Regions from separate parts of the Homo sapiens genome. Here regions 1 and 3 are each linked to region 2. The links come from fine-mapping of genetic effects on gene expression. A gene starts in region 2. Each other region holds a variant in brackets. All regions are shown on one strand. Distances are from middle to middle.

Evidence for each region. PIP is the estimated chance that this variant, and not a neighbour inherited with it, causes the effect.
Region 1: its variant is fine-mapped to the expression of B3GNT2 in whole blood (TOPMed, PIP above 0.99). The same link has a PIP of 0.9 or more in neutrophils.
Region 3: its variant is fine-mapped to the expression of B3GNT2 in whole blood (TOPMed, PIP 0.96).

What each region holds. Positions count from the first base shown.
Region 1 is chr2:62,299,634-62,307,989 of GRCh38, reverse strand. No RefSeq gene overlaps it. Among named protein-coding and RNA genes, the nearest start is that of MIR5192, 98 kb to the right of the region's middle. RefSeq lists enhancers at 1,908-1,977, 2,018-2,087, 1,653-2,178, 2,179-2,706, 4,718-4,787 and 2 more. The variant A/G (reference allele first, on the strand shown) is at 4,145.
Region 2 is chr2:62,192,124-62,198,493 of GRCh38, reverse strand. It overlaps B3GNT2 (UDP-GlcNAc:betaGal beta-1,3-N-acetylglucosaminyltransferase 2), which reads right to left and starts at 2,379. Exons shown (of 2, transcript NM_006577.6): 1 at 2,139-2,379. It overlaps LOC124906013 (a long non-coding RNA gene), which reads left to right and starts at 2,481. Exons shown (of 2, transcript XR_007086336.1): 1 at 2,481-3,355; 2 at 3,587-4,505. RefSeq lists enhancers at 984-1,093, 2,074-2,680, 3,287-3,894 and silencers at 1,504-1,853, 2,034-2,473, 2,764-2,993.
Region 3 is chr2:62,410,795-62,419,150 of GRCh38, reverse strand. LOC105374764 (a long non-coding RNA gene) reads right to left here and starts at 3,958. Exons shown (of 6, transcript XR_002959390.2): 1 at 3,722-3,958. RefSeq lists enhancers at 3,727-3,796, 6,957-7,146, 7,418-8,177. The variant A/G (reference allele first, on the strand shown) is at 3,983.

The DNA.
Region 1 (8,356 bases), 110 kb before region 2:
TACACTTATTATTCCTGTGAACCAAGAGTTTGGATAGCGCTCCGATCCTTGATAAAGGGCCTTTCCAACTAATCTCAGGGACCACTCCTACAAGAATCACATAAGCATGGCAACTGCTCCCTGCCTTCTACAACTTCCTGGCTGGCACAGATCAGGGACTCGCCCACAGGTCTCCTTGCTAGGCAGGCTCCTCGGCCCCTCCCTGGTGCCCTGTCAGCTCTAGGCTTTCTTGCCCCCTCATCAGGCAGTGCCTACCCACCCCTCATAGAAACCCACATGTACAGAGGGACTCAGGTTCAAGGCCTTCTCTTTTTTGGTTGCCCCGTAGATAAGCACTCATGGCATTTTAGTTTTGTAAGTTTCACAGCAGATAATTACAGGAAAACAGATAGGGGATGGTCAAAAGAGCAAATCCCAGGAAGGTGCGAAGTCCTCCCAGGCTGGTCCTGACTTTCTGGGAATAGGAAGTGTTACTCCTGAAGACTGTGGCGATTCATAGGACTTTTATATTGAACATGGGACCAGGACACCGAGAGGCAGGTCAGCCCTGGAGAAATTTCAGCCAGTGCTAGTTTCCTGTCAGGAAGGGCAGGGGAGAAATGGGCAGCTTCCACTCTTCACAAAGGATAGCAGTGAATGAACTCCACTGCTACAGAGACAAACCCCTCAGGTCCTGGCTGAAGACAGACGAGGCAGCCAGCAATCTCAGATGCCTTACCTATTTCCAGGGGACAGGGGGCTGGACACAGAGAGGAGGGTCACCAGCCTGGCACAGAGAACACAGAGAGCAGAAAACTGAGCCAAGAAGGCTGCCCCCTCCAAGTGTTTACCTGAAATATTCACAAACATGATGAGTCACAGAAAGAAAGCAGAAAAACCAGTAAGATGTGTAACCAGATTCTCTTCCACAAAGCAAGGAGAAGTTGTGGCAATAATGCCAGTGGGCACGGTGTGCTCTGCTGAGGGCCCTGCTTGAGAAACCTGTGTCTCCACCACACTTTCGGCCTCAGCTAAGGTTGAGAAGGGAAACTGACAACTGTGCCAGGGCAGGAAAGTCCCTGCAGGAAGCCTGCTGCTGGTCTGGGTTACCAGGGCAACTGGCAGCTGCTCTCTTCTCTTGAAAGAGAATGGACTTGGGAGGCCCAGATGGGCTCTGCCCTAGTAGCCCAAATAAGAAGGCTTAACCTTAGACAGCATCAAATAACATCGGAGTACGCCGCCCCCACAGCACTTCCCATGCATCCCCATCTGATTTCATCTACCTCTCAGGAGAGCCGGGTGCAGGGTGATTATAACCATTCCATTCCACAGTGGAGAAAACTGAGATCCGGAGACACTAAGTCACTTGCTTAGATTTACATGACTAAGAATTAGTTTGGATCCATCTGGGCATGGTGGCTCACACCTATAATCCCAGCACTTTGGGAGGCTGAAGTGGGCGGATCACTTGAGGTCAGGAGTCCGAGACCAGCCTGGACAACATGGTGAAATGCCATCTCTACTGAAAATACAAAAACAAAAACAAAAACAACCAACCAAACAGACAAAAAACTAGCCAGGCTGGGGGCTTATGCCTGTAATCCCAGCTACTTGGGAGGCTGAGGAAGGAGAATTGCTTGAACCCGGGAGGTGGAGGTTGCGGTGAGCCGAAATCGCACCACTGCACTCCAGCCTGGGTGACAGAGGGAGACTCTGTCTCAAAAAAAAAAAAAAAAAAAAAAAAATAGAATTAGCTTGGATCCTACCTGAGTCTTTAAACACCAAGTCTAGTGAACATCCCCCTACACAGTCTGGCTGCCGAATCAAGAGCTTGGGTTTTTTCAGTGCTCTCATATCTATGAATGCATGCATTCTGTTTGCAAAATACCAGGCATGGATCATACCCCTCTTCATCTCCCACATCAGAGATGTGAAACGGCCGTGCAAGGAGGCAGGGCTGCCACGGCAGCAGTTTGAGTGGGTAGCCAACATCTGACCGAGACTCGAATCCAGAGCTTTTTCCATGACACCAGCTGGCTGCCTTGCCCCTCACCACATCTGGAAAAAATGACTCAGGTGACAGCAGGCTAATCATGTCATCCTTGTGACTGCAGGTGCCACGTCGTTTATGAAGCACTTTAAAGTGGGAACGCTTGCCCTGGCTTTCCCCCAGGCCTTTATTAAGTAAAGGTCATGCTGTTTGTTAAGATTTGAGCACACTGGTGGCTGGCTCACAGGAAAGAGCTTCATAAGCTGTGCCTGAGATAAGGTTGCTTCTGGAGGCCTCTCTGCAGAGAAGAGCGAAGCCCACCCCCACTGCCTGGCTGGTTGGATAATAAGACTCAGAAGCTCCAGTTCTCCCTGTCCCGTCTGGCCTCTGTGAATTGTCTGACTGCACTGCCACTTTTCTCACCTGCCTGAGGTTACTGTCCCAGAACCACCTGACCGCACAAGAAAGGCGGGAGCAAAGATAGGTTCAGGCCCAGAGATGGTTTCTAGTCTCCCTCTGTGATGGTGATTTTTCTGGCTGCAAGAGGTTTCCAATCCTGTCTCCACCAATGATTCCACAACTTTCCCTCATTCTCTGTGACTCTGGATTCCAGACTCAGGGCCCCGAGGTAACCTGAAGCCTCTCATCTGGTCATTGCACTAAAACCTTGGCTAGGGCAGGTGGCTTCCTTCTATGCCCAGATCAAAGGCGTGAGCAATGCCCTCAGCAGCTTCCCCAAGGCAGTAACAGGAAATAATCCTCCTCACCAGCCCCTCCCACCCACACTGTCCCAGCAGGTGGTGTTTGCAGAGGTAGCACCAGGTAAGGCAGGTGGCAGGGGAGAGGAACTGGATTGAAACCTCAGTTGGCCTCAAGCCACCCACTGCTCCCACCTTTCTTGTGTGGCTAGGATGTTCTGTAGCACAGACCACAGGTACGTGAGAAAAGTGGCAGTCCAGTCAGACACAGAACCTGCAAAGCCACATAGGAAGGGGAGAACTGGAGCTTCTGAGTCTTATTATCCAATCAGGGAGTTGGGGTGGGATTGGTTCCTCTGCAAAGAGGCCTCCAGAAGCCAGCCTTATCTCAGGCATAGCCTTGGGAACCATTTCCTGTGAGTCAGCCGCCAGCGTGCTCACATTTTAACCATGTTGGGCAGCATTCGCAGGCCGCCTGTTGTGAGGCAAGAAGCCTCCGCTGTTCTGGAGGAAGCCCACGTGGGGTGATTCTGAGCAAAGTCATTATGGGTCCTGTTAGGAAACATTAATTGTGTTTATGGGTAGAACCGCCCCCAAACAAATTAGACACATGTTCTAAGGTGTCCATTTTTTAAAATCTTGGTTGAGGTTGCCCTTTGGCTCCTGGGTGACATGAGTGCTTTGTTGTCCAACATTTGTTCCTGGGAGATGGGGTTACCAGAGGTTGGAAGACCTGACCCTCTCCTCACCTCAGGCTGGAGGAAAGGCTGTAACGATGCGCTGGGAGGGAACAATGCTGCCTAGACGGGCCTGAGGCTCTGACAACAAAACACTCAGACTGGACACTAAGATGGTGGTTTATTTTCTCAGAGGGGAAAGGGTCAGACCACACCTTCAGGTGTGGAGGGAGGAGGGAGATTGCCCCTAACAGAAAGGGGTGTCCTCATGGTCTGTCATCCCAAGGCAGGCAAGGAAGAGTGTTGTGGGCTGGAAAGGGAGGGATTTCTTCCTCTCTCTGTGGAGAAAGGGGGCCTGTATATTGCTGTTGGTGGGAGCTAAAGTGGCCCCTGCCAAATGGAGGCCTTTGGGTACAAGACACTTCTCCTCTGGAGGCAGATGGAAATTTCTAAGGCTGCTTTCTTTATGCCCCAACTCAGTGGAACCTGTGGTCAGATGAGCTGTGGGGGGTTGGGGAGGGCAATGTCTCCTTCCCAAGGCCTGGCAGAGTCACTAAGTCGCCAGTCCCATAAGCTACAGAGGCAGAATCATGGCAGCAAGAAGAAAAGGGTAGAGTGAGAGTGAGAGATACTTTCTGGAGCTGTGCAAAGCTGTCCCTGGGAAACTTTCAGAAATACTCGGGAGGGGAACTCTATGGTTAGGTAGAGTTAGATGTAGGAAGGAAGTATAATTTCACTTTAGAGTTGGTAAAGTTTCAACATAGGTTAATTGCATATGAAACACTCATTTCAAAGATGAA[A/G]TAACCAGGGGTTTGGAGGCCTGAGAAAGAGAAACCATGAGACGGGGGTCTTCTGTCTGAGAAGCAGGTGCAACCCTCTGGCGGTAGCAAAGACCCAGGAGTTCCTGGGGTCTTGCGTGGAGCCTCGACAGCACATGTGCCTGGATTTTGGGTAAGGGTGGCACAAGCGAGGCCAGAAGCACCCCTCCTTCTCCCTGGCACATCATAAGGTGATCAAAGAATAATTTTTTTGAAAAAAGTCAAAAGCTGGCAGGGTGCAGTCGCTCATCTCTGTAATCCCAGCACTTTGGGAGGCTGAGGCGGGCAGATCACCTGAGGTCAGGAGTTTGAGGCCAGCCTGGACAATAGGCTCTACTAAAAATACAAAAATTAGCCGGGCGTGGTGACGGGTGCCTGTAGTCCCAGCTACTTGGGAGGCTGAGGCAGGAGAATTGCTTGAACCTGGGAGGCAGAGGTTGCAGTGAGCCAAGATTGTGCCATTGCATTCCAGCCCGGGTGACAAGAGTGAAACTCCATCTCAAAACAAAACAAAAACAAAAAAGTCAAAAGCTAACCAGAGGCAACCACACATGGAAAATAGTACAACCTTATGACATAAGACTGAAAAGGTGTCAAGAGGGAAGAAATAGAGGGTCTCAGAATGGAATGTTAGCTGTCTCTCTCCCACACACATAGCTGAAGCCAAATGAGGGAAGGTAAGAGAACAGGATCCCAAGAAGGGTCACCAGCACCTCTCAGTTCGGCACAAAGAGGGCCAAGATGCTAAAGGCAGCCTGGGGAGTCCAGGAGAAGCTCCAGAGAGGAGGAGCCCCTGGGCACCATCACAGAAGCCAGCAGCGGCTGGAGGAGTGGCTGGCTGGACTTGCTGCTGTTCAGAACTCTGTGCTGTCCAAGGGAATGAGCTGAAGTCCCAGGAGGGGACATGTGCCTGCCAAGTGGAGCAGACCCAGGTGTGGGATGCTAGCCCACGTCAGGAGGGAGCCAGGCCCAGCTCTGTCCTTCACCTGTCCATGTGACCCTCAGAGCTCAGGAAGCAGGAAGGAAGTACCACCCAGTCCCCAAACTCTAGTATTGAGGAAATGACAGGTAGCTAGAAAAGGTGTCAAAAAGAATTCGTCCTCACACTCTCAGAGCGTTAGATAGTCTGATCAGACTTACCTGTGCAAAATTAAAAGAGACAGCATGAAGGCTAAGCCAACATACTAGATTTTAAAAAAGAAGAACACCAAGAAGGAGAAGGCAGAGTAGGAGAAAGAAGAGAAGGAAAATAAGCAAGAAACAGGCTGAGTGCGGCAGCTCATGCCTGTAATCCCAGCACTTTGGGAGGGTAAGGCAGGAGGATCACTTGAGCCCAGTAGTTCGAGACCAGGCTGGGCAACATAGTGAGACCCTGTCTCTATGAAAAATAGAAAAAATGACCAGGGTGTAGTGGCGCACGCCTGTAGTCCCAGCTACTCTGGAGGATAAGGCAGGAGGATCAATTGAGCACAGGAGGTGGAGGCTGCAATGAGCCATAATTGCACCCCTGAACTCCAGCCTGGGTGACAGAGTGAGACTCTGTCTCAAAAACGAACAAAAAAAGCAAGAAACACAACATGAAAAAGATAAACATATCCAGATATCTAGATTGGGAGAAATCTCTCTCCCAAGTACAGAAGAAAACTCCTGAGAATGCTTCACATTGTAGAACAAATAAGAATATATAATACTTAATTAATCATTTTAATTTAATAGTTAATTATATTAATTTAACAATTAATAATTTGTATTAACTTGGTATATAATTAATTTTAAAATATTTAATATGCTTTTGAAATTTAGTAAAACGAGAACCCAAAGATGACTTGATAAGTCTACCAAGTGAAATGCAAAGGAAATTCAGAGCTAAGGAAAAAAATTCAGGATGAAAACAAGAGCTTTATAGAGCTATTAGATAAATTAGAAACATCAAGGAAGCTTGAAATTTTCCCAGCTCAGGAAAATCTTGAGATAATTCTAGTGAACATGGAAGAAAATGACAAAGCAATTAAAGTAGTTAAGAAGATGTTGGATGTATGGAGGACAAACACAAATCAACGTAAGGATAATTACTATTGAATTTCAGGTCAACATGTTGAGCACAGGGTGAACTCCCCCTACTGCTGTCATCTCCTATTGCAAATGCATAGAAAAACTTAATAAAATATAAAAATATATTTTAGATTGATATGTCCAAGCTCCATGCAAGAAAGGGAAATCTCCAGGGACAGAGTAGGAACAAAGTCATACAGGCATCCCTCAGGCATAGTGCCAGTTTAGTTCCAGACCACCACGCAGTAAATATCATGATAAAGCAAGTCACAAAAATTTTTTGGTTTCCCAGTGCATATAAAAGTATGTTTACCCTATACTGTGGTTTATTAAGTGTGCAATAGCATATGTCTAAACAATGTACATACCTTAATTAAAAGATAATATTGCTAAAAAATGCTAATGAAGTGAGCACGTGCTGTTGGAAAAATAGCACTGATAGACTTGCTCCACGCAGGGTTGCCACAAACCTTCAATTTGTAAAAAATGCAATATCTGCAAAGTGCAATAAAGCAAAGTATAATAAAATAAAACATGCCTGTAAATGGGAGCTAAAGCCGGAAGACCCACAGGGGACTCAGACTGGATGAGCTGTGGTTGCAATTTCAATGCGTCATGAGCCCCACATGCAGCAGGAAGCCATGAGTCCAGGAGGCAGGACCATGCCACCCCTTCAGGAAGAGGGCTGCCCAAGGTTGTGGCTGAACACAAGCCATCTGCCCAGCTATCAGTGGAAACAGTCAACAGTCCTGGTCCACTAGCCATAGACTTGGTTTGAAGTCAGTGCTCTATTCCATAGGACAACACTGAAACCTCCTCACCGGAATCCTTCTTCTAAAACCCAGACCACACAGTGGAGAAGTCCCAAGAAAGATGGCTCCCATGAAAGACAAGCTCATAGGCAAGAATTACACACCCTATAAGGAAGATCAACAACACTAAAGGCAGTTTTCAGACCCCCCCAAAGAAGAAAATTTATACTTAAGGAACTAGAGATAATAGACAATCTTGAAGGGGGTTTTAAAATGTATACATAAAACTTCAGGGAACTAAATGAAAGAATAGCCATCACAAATAAGAACAGATGGTTATGAAATAAAAATAGGCAAATACGTGAAAAAGTATACATATTAGAAACGAATAATGCAGTTATTGAGGTAGCTGGATGTCTTATTTATGTTTTATAGGTGTGTGAGTTTTTTATACACAAACATTCACATGTACATATACAGAAAAAGATTGGAGGGAAATACATCAAGTGGTAAGTAATAGCTAACTCTGAGAATAGGACTAGGGGTGTTTTAATTTTCTTCTTTTTGCCTACCTGTAACTTCAAACTTTTTTGTTACAGTGAATATGTAATTAAGAAAAGAAAAAAATCACTAAGAGACATATTTGTTTTTTAATTTTTAACTTTTATATTTTTGTAGGGACAAGGTCTCTCTATATTGCCCAAGCTGGCCTCAAACTCCTGGGCTCAAGCAATCCTCTCGCCTCACCCTCTCAAAGTGCTGGGATTACAAGTGTGAGCCACTGTGCTCAGCCTAAAGACACATTTTAATTTCACAATGATGAAGGATGTATACCTACTATGTACCCTCAAAATTAAAAATTGAAAAAAAAAGCGAAGGCAGAGTTGGTAGTGCTTGGACTCAGTCAATATCACCACATGTAAAATGATCATGAATTAAACCAAGAGATATTAATAAAATTTTATTATACTACATGAAAATAGTTGAATAAGATTTGAACAAATGTTTAGAGCATATTGGGATTGTCTGACCTTATTTAGGATCAAGGTGATACCCAAAATAATTCACTTCAAAGAGTGAGGCAGGCATCCTCCAGAGTGTCTACCACTGAGACCCAGTGAGAGGCCCTGGTGGAGAAGGGAGGTTCTGCGCCAAAGAAGCCAAGCAGTAATTTTGAATGTGAGCTGCACATAAAAAAATCATACAGGGCTGGGCGCAGTGGCTCATGCCTGTAATCCCAGCACTTTGGGAGGCAGAGGCAGGGGGACCACTTGAGGTCAGGAGTTCGAGACCAGCCTGGCCAACAAGGCAAAACCCCGTCTCTACTAAAAATAATACAAAAAAATTAGCCAGGCGTCGTGGTGTACACCTGTAAGCCCAGCTACTCAGG
Region 2 (6,370 bases):
GGCTACCACAGGGTTACTGTTTTTGGTAAGGGGAAGTCGATGCCAGGAGGAACTTCTCTATTGATTACAGCAATGACCACCATTTATTAAGCACTTCTTAGCTCTCCTGGTGCAGTGCTAGGAGTTTGGCAAACATCCTATTTGTCCTCAGAAATAATCTTGCAGAGCAAACACCACCATCCCCAAAACCAGATGTGTAAAATGAGGCTCAGGTGAAGAATAACTTGCCCAAGATCACTGAATTAAATGTGGCAGAATCAAGTCTAATGAATGGCAAGGGTGAGAACTGGTCAGTTTCACAGAGAATTAGGCCTTCATCATACAAATGCCGCCTGCACAAAAACTAAATGAGAAACAGTGAACCCTTGCTGTAGGGAGAAAAAGCAATATTCCGAACTAAAAAAGTAGTTTCAAACAGAAGATCTAATGATAAACACATTTGTAAAGTCTGAGCAGGGAGGAAAAGGATTACTCAAATTACTCAAGTACAGCCCTATGGGGCTCCTTCACTTCTGTGTTCTTAAAATCTAATCTGGTTTAAGAGCGCATGGGCTCCGAGTAAAACTCTCCCAAATTCCTCCAGGCTTAACCACCCTCTACTCAAAAGAACCAGGAGCAGGAGTTAGGACAATGGGAAGTGACCGCCCTGCCCTGCCCTGCCGGTCCTCCCTCCGGGTCAGCTGTCAGATCCGCATGGGTGCGACTATAAGCCGGCACCGGAGCCCCGGGACTGGCTCGGCCAGGGTCCCCGCCTTTTCACTCCCAGTCCCGGCCCTGTCGGCCACCTCGTTTACCACCTCCAGAGGCACAAATAATTATACCGGAAGAATTTGTTTTAACAAGTAGAATTCTATATTCACCAACTGGCTTCGCTATCGGATATTACGGTAGGGTTCCAACAAGAGAAGGGCAAAAGAATATAGTTTAATTGTTCTAAACAATCTTTCTGAGAAGTTGGGGTGGCTGAGGCGGCCACGGGGATACAGCTCAGGCACCTGTGAGCTAAGCCCACTCTACAAACTAACCACCCCTACGTTTTGGGCAGAAGAGCGCCGCCTCGCCAACCCAGGTTATAAATGTACATATTTTTAAAGATGAGCTTTGACGCTGTGACACTTGTGGGGAGTCTCCCGACGGCTCCTCTACTTGATGGGGGTACAGGGAGTTCTGCGGCTCCCCAGCCCCGAGTTTCAAATACCGTGGCCTGGAAATTAACCGGGTGACTCGGTTTATTGCCTCCAGAAGGGTCCGCCTGCCGTGCTGGAGTAGCCGCCAGTCCCGCGCCCGCAGCCCCGGCAGGGCCCCCCACGCCCACCTTCCCACGAGGGGTGTCTCGTAGAGTCCGGCTTCAGGCGCTCCCTGGCCTGGCAGCACCCACCCCACCCCGCCCCACCCCACCCCCACGACTCGGGCTAGCAGCCTGGTTAATCATTCAACGCAAACAGTGTGGAATATTTTTTTTAAAAGGTCAAAGCGAAAGGTTTTCCCTAAGTTTGGCAGAAACCAGTTTTGGGGGAGCCGGAGACAGAAGTGGCAGAGGTTGGGGGTGGGGGGTGGGGAGCGGCTGCCGGCGGCTCTTTGGCTCACAAAACACCTGATCTCCCCATGCGGCACGGGAGGCCGGCGCAGTGCGAGGGTGGGGTGCGGGGGTGCGAGCGAGGAATCACGCGCGCCCCCCTCCCCGAAATGCCCGCGCGCCCCGGATGAGGAGGCCCGGCCCCAGATGCCCCTTGCCAAAGCCCGCATCGCCCCGGCGCCGGATCCCCCGGAAGTTGGGGTGCAGCGAGGAGGGGGAAGGTCCCCGGGCTCCAGGGCGAGGTGGGCACGGAATGGGTTGGGAGGTTCCAAAGCCCCGCAGCGGGCGGTGTCCCTCTCCTCTCCCTCTGGGCTGAGGTTGGGTGGCTGGGACGGCGGGAAGGTAAGGGAGGCTTAAATGCGGCAGGAGCCACCTAGGGACGGCTTCCTCCACCGGGGCGCGGGTACGAAGCCGGAACCGGCGAGGAACCGGGCGGGGGTAGCAGGGTGTCCGGAAGGTGGGGCCGGGAAGCAGGGAGGCGGAAGGGGACTGGTAGAGGGGCCTGGCGGTGAGAGGGCAGCGGGGAGGGAGCCGGCGGGGGTGCTCGGCGCCCGGGCCCTACCTTGTCCGGGAGCAGCTCCAGCTCGGCGGGGCGGGGGCAAGGGCGGGAGATCGCGGCCACATCCACGTCCCGGCCGCTCCGCGCGGCTCAGCCCGGCGACCGCCGCAGCTCACGCTCCATGCGCGGCGCCCCGGACGGGCGGCCCGGCGGTGTCGGCGGCAGGGACTGCTCCGGCTTGGCTCTGCTAGCCTCCGGCACTTGTTGCCGCTGCTGCCGCTGCCGCTGCGCCTCACTCCAGGCTCCGGTTCCAGGCGCAGCAGCCGCCGCGGGCGCCCGGCCCCGCCCCTCCCCTGCCCGCCCGCCAATGGGGCCCGGCCCCGCCCCTCACGTCACCGCCCGACGGCCCCGCCCCGCGCCCCAAGTTTTGGGAGGGTTCCGCTCTCCCCACCCGGTACCAGGACCCACCCGGGCCCGCGCTCCCTGCGGCTTCCAGGGACCCTCCAGCCCCCACGCACCCTCCTGCAAAGCCGAGGGTTAAGCTGGGGAAAGGGGGCCTCTAGGAAGGCGACCCCCCTGGAAATGCCTGGCAGCTCCAAAAACACTAATGAAACTCAGCTCCAGCCTCCGCCCCTCCAGTTGTGGGTGGCCCCTCTTGCGGTTCGTCTGAGGCTAGGGGACTAGGCGCATCGCCTAGCGAGACTCCAGTGGCCTTTTCTGTCCAGTTTGTAACCGGAACTAGACCGACCCCGGCCGCCCCCTCCAGTGCTGGGGCGGGTGAGGAATGGCCCCGCCGGGGAGGCGGGGGAGGGAGGCCTGGGCCACCCTGGGGTCTGACCTTTGCTCCACCTCTTAGGTGCTCACGACCCAGAGTGGTGCCCTGCTTGGTACTGCCACTGGATCCTCTGGCTTATGAAGCCGTCCAGGACAGGAAGGGTGGGGGGTGGTCCTTAGTTCTCTTCGTGGGGTCATGCAGAGTGGTTTCCTCGAGGTCCCACGCCCGTCTCAGGAAGCCAGAAACGCAAGATGCCGGGCGCTCGGCCCGAACCCGTGCCGCGGCCCAAGGGGCAAGGCGGATACCGAGGCAAGGCCTAAAGGGCCGGACTCTGACCGCACCCTCCGGACACTGCAGGGCTCCGCCGGCCAGAGGCGGCCTTGGCGCCAACCACACCTAGCAGCGGGGTCCCCGGGCCCACCGATGCGCCCTCCTAGCCCCGCGCTCCTTCGAGGGGTTCCAAGGTGACTCAGAGACGCAGCTGACACAATTCTGAGGCCCCCAGGTAAGCCTGGCGATACCGGATGGAGAAGTTACCTGGTCTTGAAAGGCCCAGTCCAGCCAGCGAGACCCGCGTGCGCTCCGCGGGGAGGCAAGCCTAACCAGGGGCTCACCTGGAAGCGTCCCCGCCCCCTGGTCCTTATCTCTGAATCGAAACCGAACCTGGACCCATCTAGATAATTGGACTGAGCAATTAAGGACGCTTCGCTCCTAACTGTTAGCATTTTTTCCTAAGGCTCTCGGAGGCGGAATCAGCTGGAAAGGAACATTGCTAAGTAGGAATTTCAGGCACCTGTGAACTGAGCCCACTCAATAATCGGCCCTTTCCCTTAACCAAACTCAGCAAAGGAAGAAAGACCAAGTTGCTGCGGATGCACAGAGCCACGTGGGTGCGGGTCCTCTAGAAACAGGAATTCAGAGTCAGTAGATATGGAAATGTTATGGTTTGCAGTCTTCGGACCATGCTGCTTTCATGCTGTTCACATGATTCTCCTCGGACTGCGAGGTAAAGTCCAAGAAACAAGTCGAATGTTTGTATTTTCATAGAAAAAACATCTGTAAGGGTGCACACCGACTGTTAACCACGGTTACGCGGGGAGGGGAAACAAGGGAGTTACATTTTTTTACTCCCTTGACTTTGGATTTTGTATTTTTCCAGTTGTATTTACTTTCATAATTTAGAAAGCTAATAAAACATGTTTAAAGAAACAGAAGCTAGAAATTCTCTAAGAACTCTAGGAAGTAGAGGCCGGGCGCGGTGGCTCACGCCTGTAATCCCAGCACTTTGGGAGGCCGAGGCGGGTGGATCACAAGGTCAGGAGTTCGAGACCTGTCTGGCCAACATGGTGAAACCCTGTTTCTACTAAAAATACAAAAATTAATGGTGACATGTACCTGTAATCCCAGCCACTTGGGAGGCTGAGGCAGGACAATCGCCGAACTCAGGGAGGCGGAGGTTGCAGTAAGCCGAAATCGTGCCACTGTACTCCAGCCTGGGTGACAGAGTGAGACTCTGTCTCAAAAAAAAAAAAAGAACTCTAGGGAGTATAAATTAATAAATGAAGTCTATGTCTTCATTCTGTATCAAAATAATATTGAGTCCATGTTCCTGGGTTTAAATAAAGATATCTCTAGGCTGCTGTCTGATATTTAAATGCAGTGTTGAGACAAAGCGGACATCTAAGGAAGATTTTCTGTGCCATCAGATTGGTATATTGTTTCCATGCATATGTGTCTTCCCTTTAAATGCACTCCCTGTAGCCACAGACATGCTTGCAAGAACGGCCAGCCAAGGAGTTTATAGTAAAGGAGCTGCTACAATGTCAGCTGGCAACCAACTAGGAAATTAAGCTTGTGTCCCTCGCTGCCCAAGGCTGCCCAGGCCATGAAATTTAAAAATAAGGGTATTCTTAGGCCAGGCACGGTGGCTCATGCCTGTAATCCCAGTACCTTGGGAGGCCAAGGTGGGCGGATCACTTGAGGTCAGGAGTTCAAGACCACCCTGGCCAACATGGTAAAACCCCGTCTCTACAAAAAATACAAAAAAATTAGCCAGGTGTGGTGGTGGACACCTGTAGTCCCAGCTACTTGGCAGGCTGAGGCAGGAGAATTGCTTGAACTCGGGAGGTGGAGGTTGCACTGAGCCGAGATCGTGCCACTGCACTCCAGCCTGGGCGACAGAGCAAGACTCCGTCTCAAATAAATAAGGGCATTTTCTCCATGGTGGCTTTAACACAGTTGGGAGTATATCTACAATAGTTACCTTGTGTCTTTTGGGGAGTAACTCAATGCTAGATTCCACATCGCTTGGCTATAGTCCCTACTGTTAGGTTGGGACCCAGGTCCATCATCAGTAGGCAGAGATGTGTTATTCACTTATTCAACAAAAATGTACTGGCCATCCTCTAGATGCAGCACAGGACTAGGCGCTGGAGTGGTGAACATGGCAAACACACTCCCTGCTTGGAGCTCACAGTCTAGCTGGAGAGAGGGGCTTAACAATTAAATGCACTATTAATTAATTACAATTGTGATATGGGCCACAGGGAGTGCAAGGTGGTGAGATCATCTGGGGAGTCCATGAGGAGTTCCTGGCTGGTTCAGACTATAAAGGAAGAAGTGGTTGAGGAGGAAGTTAGAGAGGCAGGCAGGGGTTAGATCACGCAGGGCCAGTACACCACATTACAGAGTTTGGACTTTATCCTGAGACATTTGAAACAAGAGTCATACACTCAATTTTGCATTTTGAAGTAGATCACTCTGACTGCAGTGTGAAGAAGGAATAGGGAAAGGGGAAGAATGGAATGGAGGGACAGTTAGGAGGCTGTTGCTATAATGTGAGAGGGGCCATTTGTTTAAGCAGTAGAGCAAATGTAGAGAGGTAGACACCAACGAGACTTGGTAATTGCTTAGGGGGGATGAATCAAGGAAAACTCCCAGATCTCTGCTTCTTTAACCAGATGGATGGTGGTGCCATTTTCTGAGTTGGAGAACCCTCTCAAGGTTCAAATTTGGTCAAAGTAGGTTTGAGGTGCCTGTGAGATGTCCGGGTGGAGATGTTGAACAGGTGGTTGGCTGCAGGGTCTGGGGCTCTGAGGAGAGGCTGGGGCTGGAATAGCTGGTGTGGCAGTGGTAATGAAGTCACCAGAGGCTTGTGGGCTCCTATGAGAGTGTACAATTAGATCAGAAGAGGACCTACCACTGAGCCTTGAGGAACTCTTATCTAAGGGCCAGACAGAGGCAAACCTCTGGCAGAGGAGGTGGAAGAGCAGCCAGAGAGGCAGGAGGAAAACCAGGAGCTTGGCCAGGTGCAGTGGCTCACGCCTGTAATCCCAGCACTTTGGGAGGCCGAGGCAGGTGGATCACCTGAGGTCAGGAGTTTGAGACCAGCCTGGACAACATGGTGAAACCCCATATTTACTAAAAATTAGCTGGGCGTGGTGGCAGGCGCCTGTAATCCCAGCTACTTGGGAGGTTGAGACAAGAGAATCGCTTGAACCCAGGAGGTGGAGGTTAAAGT
Region 3 (8,356 bases), 220 kb before region 2:
TTAGTTTCTTGCTTTTTATTTTTTGTGTATTAATTGTATGAGGTTACCATGAGGCTTGCAAATGCTATCTTATAGCACATTTTTTTTTGAGACGGAGTCTCGCTCTGTCCCCCAGGATGGAGTGCAGTGGCATGATCTCGGCTCACTGCAAGCTCCGCCTCCTGGGTTCATGCCATTCTCCTGGTTCAGCCTCCTGAGTAGCTGGGACTATGGGCTCCTGCCACCACGCCCAGCTAATTTTTTGTATATTTAGTAGAGACGGAGTTTCACTGTGTTAGCCAAGATGGTCTCCATCTCCTGACCTCGTGATCTGCCTGCCTTGGCCTCCCAAAGTGCTGGGATTACAGGCGTGAGCCACCGCGCCTGGCCATAACACATTATTTTAACCTGATAACAACTTAACACTCTGCATAAACAAACAAGCAAAAAGAAAACTAATAAAATCTCTATGGCTTAACTTCATCCCCCAGCTTTTTAAATTTTTGTTGTTTCTATTTATATATCTTTTTTTTTTTTTTTTTTTTTGAGACAGAGTCTCGCTCTATCACCTAGGCTGGAGTACAGTGGCATGATCTTAAAGCAATTCTCCTGCCTTGCCTCCTGAGTAGCTGGGATTACAGGAATGCACCACCACACCCAGCTAATTTTTGTATTTTTACTAGAGACAGGATTTCACCATGTTGGCCAGGCTGGTCTTGAACTCCTGACCTCAAGTGATCCACCCGCCTCAGCTTCCCAAAGTGCTGGGGTTACATGTGTGTGCCACTGCACCTGGCCTATTTTTATCTTATTTTACTGACTATGTCTTGAAAGGTTGTTGTAGTTATTATTTTTGACTGGTTCATCGTTTATTCTTTCTACTTAGGATAAAAGTAGTTTACAAACTACAGTTACAGTGTTATCATATTCTGTGTTTTTCTGTGTATTTACTATTGGCAGTGAGCTTTGTACCTTCAGATAATTTCTTATTGCTCATTAATGTCCTTTTCTTTCCAATTGAAATCTCCCTTTAGCATTTCTGGTAGGATAGGTCTGGAGTTGATTAAATCCTTCAGCTTTTGTTTGTCTGGGAAAGTCTTTATTTCTTCTTCATGTTTGAAGGATATTTCACCGGATATACTATTCCAGGGTAGTTTTGTTTCCTTCAGTATTTTTAATATGTCATGCCACTCTTTCTTGGCCTGTAAAGTTTTCTACTGAAAAGCCTGCTGCCAGATATATTTGGGCTCCATTGCATGTTATTTGTTTCTTTTCTCTTGCTGCTTTTAGAGTCTTTTTTTTATCCTTGACTTTTGGGAGTTTGATTATTAAATGCCTTAAGGTAGTCTTCTTTGGGTTAAATCTGCTTGGGGTTCTTGATTATTTACTTATTGACAATATTATTGTTTTCTGCTAATAACAAAACAACAGCCAGCTAGTTCTAGAAGCTCCTCATGCAGATTATAGGCCTCCTCCCTGGATGGCTGTTGGGTTAGATTACAAAGAATGATTTCTAATCCTCTATTTTATTATTATTATTATTATTATTATTTTGAGACAAGATGCTGCTCTATCACACAGGTTGGAGTGCAGTGGTGCCATTACAGCTCACTGTAGCCTCAAACTCCTGGGCTCAGGCAATCCTCCTGCCTCAGCTTCCCAAGTAGCTGAGACTACAGGTGCACTCCACCATGGCTGGCTAATTTTTTCATTTTTTTGTAGAGACAGGGCCTTGCTGTGTTGCCCAGACTGGCCTCAAACTTCTGACCTCAAGTGATCCATCTGCCTTGGCCTCCCGAAGTGCTGGGATTACAGACATGAGCCACCGAGCCCAGCCCAATCCTCTCTTTAAAAATGACTTTTCTTATTATCTTTTTTTTCTGACTAAAAAGGAAATTTCTTGTGTTAGTTTCCTATTGCTGCTATAACAAATTATCATACACTTAGTGGCTTAAAACAGCACAGATTTATTATCTCATAGTTCTGGAGGTCAGAAGTCCAAAATGGGTCTCTCTGGGCTAAAATCAAGGTGCAACAGGACTGTATTCCTTTTGGAATCCATTCACCTTTTGCACCTCCTAGAGGCTTCCACATGCCTTGGCTCATGGCCCCTTCTTCAAAGCCAGCCATGGCTGGTCAAGCCTTCCTCACATCATATCACATCACTCTGACATTCACTCTTCTGCCTCCCTCTTCCCCATTTTATTTATTTATGTATTTATTTTGAGACAAAGTCTTGCTCTGTCACCCAGGCTGGAGTGCAGTGGCGCGATCTCAGCTCACTGCAAGCTCCACCTCCCGGATTCACGCCATTCTCCTGCCTTATCCTCCTGAGTAGCTGGGACCACAATCGCCCACCAACACATCCAGCTAATTTTTTTTTTTTTTTGTATTTTTAGTAGAGACGGGGTCTCATCGTGTTAGCCAGGATTGTCTCAATCTCCTGACCTCGTGATCTGCCCGCCTCGGCCTCCCAAAGTACTGGGATTATAGGCGTGAGCCACCATGCCAGGCCCCTCTTCCCTGTTTTAAGGACCTTTGACATTGCACTGGACTCCCCTGGATGATCCAGGATACACTCCCCTTCTCAAAGGCAGCTGATCAGCAACCTTCATTCTATCTGTAGACGTAGTTCCCTTTTGCCATGTAAGCTAGCATATTCACAGGTTCTGAGGATTACGAGGTGGACATCTTTGATGTTATTATTCTGCCTACAACATACACATTCCTTGTAGAAAATGTAGGAATACAGAAAAGGCATAAAAGAAAGTACATGACACTTCTAATTCCACTTCCTGGAGATAACCACTGATGATGGCTTAGTGTATATTCTTCAAGTCTTTTGTTCAGTGCATATGTTTTTTTCTTTGTAAACTAGGTTTGCATGATAATATATAATCATTAATGTTAAATTACTATATATAGTGAATTACTAAATATATATAGTATTTAATATTAAATTACTAAACACTATATATATTACTAAACACTATATATAATAGTGTTATATATAAAAAATGTTTAGTAATTTTCCTTAATAATATGCATATATTCCCATGGAACTATATATTTTTCCACATTTCATTTTAATGGCTATCTAGCATTCTACTGTGTGGAATGTACTATAATTTATTTAACTAATTTAGTTAATTCTCTGTTATTAACCACATAACTTATCTCTAGCTTTTCTTTAAGCCTGGTACCCCTGTGGTAAACATCCCTAAATCTACATCTTTGTACATATTCTTAGGATACATTCCCTAAAGGCACACCAAAGGTTGGGTGATTATATCATTTATTCTACAAAGCAGGATTCTTTGAGAGTGAAAAAAGATAATATTAAAAATCCATAGTAATTAATAAATAACAATAAGCCAGGACTGTTCTGGGCGTGACACACATTGCCAGATTGGCCTCCTGAAATGTTTACACTCCCACGGGCAGCTACCAAATGTCCTTGCTCTAAGCCCTTGCCAATGCTGCCAGTCCTATACCCCTACACCCTCTTACTCTCTAGATCCCATCTTCCAAAAAACAACAACCACACACACTGCAAATACCATGAGAGCCCTCACTGGAGATGTGACAGTGGTTGGCAGAGCTGTTTCTCATGGCAGGGAGAGGACAAGTAAGTCTTTGCCCTGGTTAACAATGATTTGACATTTGGTGAGTTCATTTTGTCTTCTGATCCAGGTACATCCACTGGATTAGTTTCAAGGCAGCAATGACCTGCCTTCCTTACCTGCACACAGGCCCAGGTACAGGCTCAGCCAGAAGAGGAATCTCCCAGGAGGGCCTCTCCCCAGGCCCAGGCAGGGAAGCACTGCCATGGATAGCATCTGCCAGGACAAGCTGACCTGCACAAGAGACAGTCCACCGTGAAGAGCCGAGCATGAGTTGGCAGCTGCTGTCAGCTCAAATTGTCCAGTACGCAAACTTGGTCTTCAGAGGACTGACTTCCTCTTGGATAGAAGAACCCTCTGAAACCATGACTGTCAAGAAC[A/G]CACCCAAATAAAGCAGCTGCCGAAACCACAAAAACAGAAAGACTAGATTCATTGTGAAGATGTTTTCTAACATTCAAATGGGCTTTTGTTAGTTTTGTTTTTGATTTTGGTGGAGGTCATTTGAGTCTTGTTATCAAGGTTACAAAGTGCTCTCTGGGAAAAGATCCGGGCCCATTTACCAGGCTGCCTTGCCTGGCTTTGCTTCTCGGGTATGAAATGAACATTGAGAATGCAGACACTGAAGAAAAGACCTCAGGTATCTTTGACTTTTTTTTTTTTTTTTTTTTTGAGACAGGGTCTCAATCTGTCACCCAAGCTGTAGTGCAATGGCACGATCTAGGCTCACTGCAACCTCTGCCTCCCAGGTTCAAGCAATTCTCCCACATCAGCCTCCTGAGTAGCTGGGATTACAGGGGCGTGCCACCACACCCAGCTAATTTTTGTATTTCTAGTAGAGATGGGGTTTCACCATGTTGGCCAGGCTGGCCTTGAACTCCTGACCTCAAGTGATCCATCCACCCTGACTTCCCAAAGTGCTGGGATTACAGGCGTGAGCCACCATGCCCAGCCTATTTTTGACTTTCTGAGTCAAGTAACCAGATGAAACCAGTCCCCTTGTCCACCCAGAGTCCACTCAGGCTATACTTGATTCATACTTTTTTTTTAATTTTTATATTTTTTTTAGAGACAGGGTCTCATTCTGTCACCCAGGCTGGAGTACAGTGGCACAATCACGGCTCACTGCAACCTCGAACTACTGGGCTCAAGCAATCCTCCTGCCTCAGCCTCCCAATTAGCTAGGACTACAGGCACGTGCCACCATGCCTGGGTAATTTTTTAATTTTTTGTAGCAATGGAGTCTCACTATGTTGACCAGGCTGATCTCAAACCCCTGGTCTCAAGCAACCGGCTCCCTTTAGCCTCCCTAAGCACTAGGATTACCGGTGTGAGCCACCACACCTGGCCTGATTCATATGCTAGACTCATATGCTAGAAAAGCCAACCCCAAATGGGCCCTGATAGAGCAATCTTGTTGGGGACAGTTTTACTTGTAAGTAACTGGCTCCCTGACCTACAGAATATAAGCCTTCAGAAAAAGCTTCAGAAAAAGCTCAGCACCCTGCCTCTCTCCTCCAAATAATGTTCCAGGTGATATTCTGCAAGCACACCTGGAAACTTTGCTCTGTTTGTTAACCTAGAAAATTAAATGAGCAAGGGACAGAGCAGGCTGGCCTGGAACAGGGACTGGGTACAAACCAGATCTCCAAAGCTTGGGCTTATTCTCTGAAAGAAATGCTCTTTTTAATTTCAACTCTGATGTCTTGGTGGAGACATTCAACTGGAGATCTGGAGTCTTTGATATAAGCAAAGGCAAGCTTGTGGGATCACCACTGGCTACAGAAAGAAGCCCAGCTCTTTGGCAAAGAAAATCCTGGGCTCAGAGAGTGAAGAGTGTGTCAGATTTCTCACGTCAAAAGTCAGCTTTTGTATTCAGAATGGAGCCAGAAGGTCCTGAATCCAGAATGGCCTAGAGCCTCCCCACATGCTGTCCTAGCGGGGGCTTTAGCAGGTGGATTTTGATAAAGATAGCTTTGGATGCTAAGCATAGAAAAAAAGAGAAATGTTGGCTCTAGGCTGGGTATGGTGGCTCACACCTGCAATCCCAGCACTTTGGGAGGCCAAGGCGGGTGAATCACTTGAGTCCAGGAGTTCAAGACCAGGCTGGGCAACATGGCAAAATCATCTCTACAAAAAATACAAAAATTAGTCGGGCATGGGGTCACCCACCTGTAGTCCCAGCTACTAGGGAGGCTGAGGTGGGAGGATCAATTGAGTCCATGAGATCAAGGCTGCAGTGAGCCGTGTTTGCGCCACTGCATTCCAGCCTGGGTAACAGAGAAAGACCTTGTCTCAAAAAAGGAAAAAGAAAAAAGTTGGCTTTAGCACCTCGAACCCTAGATGACTTCCTGAGTGTCATATTCTTTGGCTGCTACTCTGGAGTCACATCTCAGGGAAGATCCAGACAGACGGCTTTGGTCTTTGTGTTTGTAGGTCCTTTTTCCCTCAGATACTCACCTGCCCTACTCCCTCACCTCATCTATGCCTTTGCACAGATATTAGCAGATATCTGTGCTGATAAAAGTTGCGACTGCACCAGGCACAGTGGCTCACACCTGTAATCCCAGCACTTTGGAAGGCTGAGGCAGGAGGACTGCTTAAGGCTAGGGGTTCAAGACCAGCCTGGGCAACACACCAAGACCTTATCTCTGAAAAAAAAAAAAAAAGTTGTAGCTCATCAATTACCCTATCTGAAATAGCCCTGAATCCCCTGCCTTATTTTCCTTTATTGCACTTGTTACTACATCCCATTATATTTTACATGTATGTGTTTAATATTTGCCTCCCTAGTTAAAATGTAAAGTGCATGAAAGGAGACATTTTTATTTATAGTCAGGTCCGCAGATCTTAGGACAGTGCCTGGCACATAATAAAAGCACAATAAATATTTGTTGAATGAGTCTTAGAGTTGAGTCAAACATCAGATAGCAGGTATTTCTACTGGGCAAATGTGGACTCACCCCAGAGGTGTGTAGAAGAGGGTGCAGAGTCTGGAGTAGTTTGGGGTGTAGGTGTCGGGGGAGAGGCAATTGTCTCGGGTGGAAACAAAATCCATGGCTTGTGCCCCTGCAGTTGCAAACACCATGAGTAGACGACAGAGAGAGAGAGAGAGAGAGAGAGAGAGGGAGGGAGGGAGGGGGAGAGAAAGAGAGAGAGAGAGAGAGAGAGAGGGAGGGAGGGAGGGGGGGAGAGAGATTGAGAGAGAGAGAGAGAGAGAGAGAGAGAGAGAGAGAGAGAGAGAGAGAGAGAGAAAACTAATTGTAATTCCTACTCATAGCCACAAGATGGCACTATTGCTCAGAGTCTTTACTCTGAAAAGCCGAATCTAGCAGAATCTAGCAGTCTAGTTTGGGATTCCTTGCTTCTCTCCGTCTCCTCCCGTTTCTCTCTCCGCTTTCCTCTCTTTTGTCTTCCTCTCCCTTCGTTTTTAAACACTGCTTTTATGGTGGACTTGAGCAATAGTATAGGAGAAGCCATTGGTGCTCAGAGAGAGATCCCCGAGATGGATATTTGGCCACACTAGGCACAATGGTTTGCTCACTGAGCACGGCCGGAAGGCCTGGCTTCACCAGCTTCCTCTTCTCTCTGGCCAGAACCCACAGCCTTGCTGTTCTGGACCTGGCCCGTGGCTTGGGAAGCCTCCAGGGACAATCTTGCTTCTCCCTCCCTTACTCCATCCTCCCCACCCCATAACATGCTTATCTGGGAAGCACCTGCCCTCAGATCTGGTTCCAGGGGTCCTTGCTTTCCACTTGAGAAACTGTAAACACGCACAGAATGTCTCCTGGTGGGGGTTCTGAGGCCTTTTCCTCCCTGGTATTTTAGCCTAAGGAAAAAGCATTCAGTGGTGTGGGGATGGTGGGTGGAGCTTGCGGTATTTTTCTAAGACTTTTGCAGTTGGGGAACAAATCTCCAGGGAAGGGGCAGGGCCTCGGGCTAATTCCAGTACAGTAGGATCAGGGCCATGAAAACATCACACAAAGGAAACTTCAAAGCTCTTCCCCAGTCTGAATGGGCAGGGCCTGCTGAGAGGTCAGATGTTAACCTGATCCAAATGCCCTCTTGCTTTCAGGTGCCCCTCGCAGGCCTGCACACCCCTAGGGGATCCACCCTCTCCCAGGTCAGAATTCCACAGGGCCCTGAAGCTTCCTTACGCAGTGCTCCCCATCCCTGTGCTTGAAGCAAAGCCAGGGAGGGCAGAGCCCAGAAGTTGGGATCTGGTTCTGACTGTTCTCTGGCCTTAGGAGTAGAGGCCAATTTCATCTCTGCAAAGTGAGGCTGGGGCTGAGGAATGAAATTACACCTTCATCCCGCTCAGTCCTGCCTCATCCCCAAACCTTGCCAAACCCTGACACAGCTACTTTGCAGGGAGTGGTGAGAATTAGGAATGCTGCAAGGTCACTTAGGGTGATCATTAGGACAGTCATTAATTTCTGAGGCCTAAGAGTGACTAATTTATCTCTGATAGACACAGGGATCAAAGGAGAGTATTTATGGCTTAGAAACAAACCTCCCATTCTTTCCCCTGCTATAATAAATAATAAAAAGCTCCCAGGCCTCCCTCCCTTGTCCATCTCTTCCCTGCCCCTTCCTCTCTGTCTTAACTGTCCCTGCACAAAAATTAACCCTACTCTTGCTTCTCTGTACTCTTCCCCTTCCTTCTGTAAGAACCAGAGAGGGGAAGAGAATTAGCTGGCCCTGAGAGCTTCAGCTGCAACTGTGCTGTGGAGTGAGGGGTGCTGATCCCAGGGGAG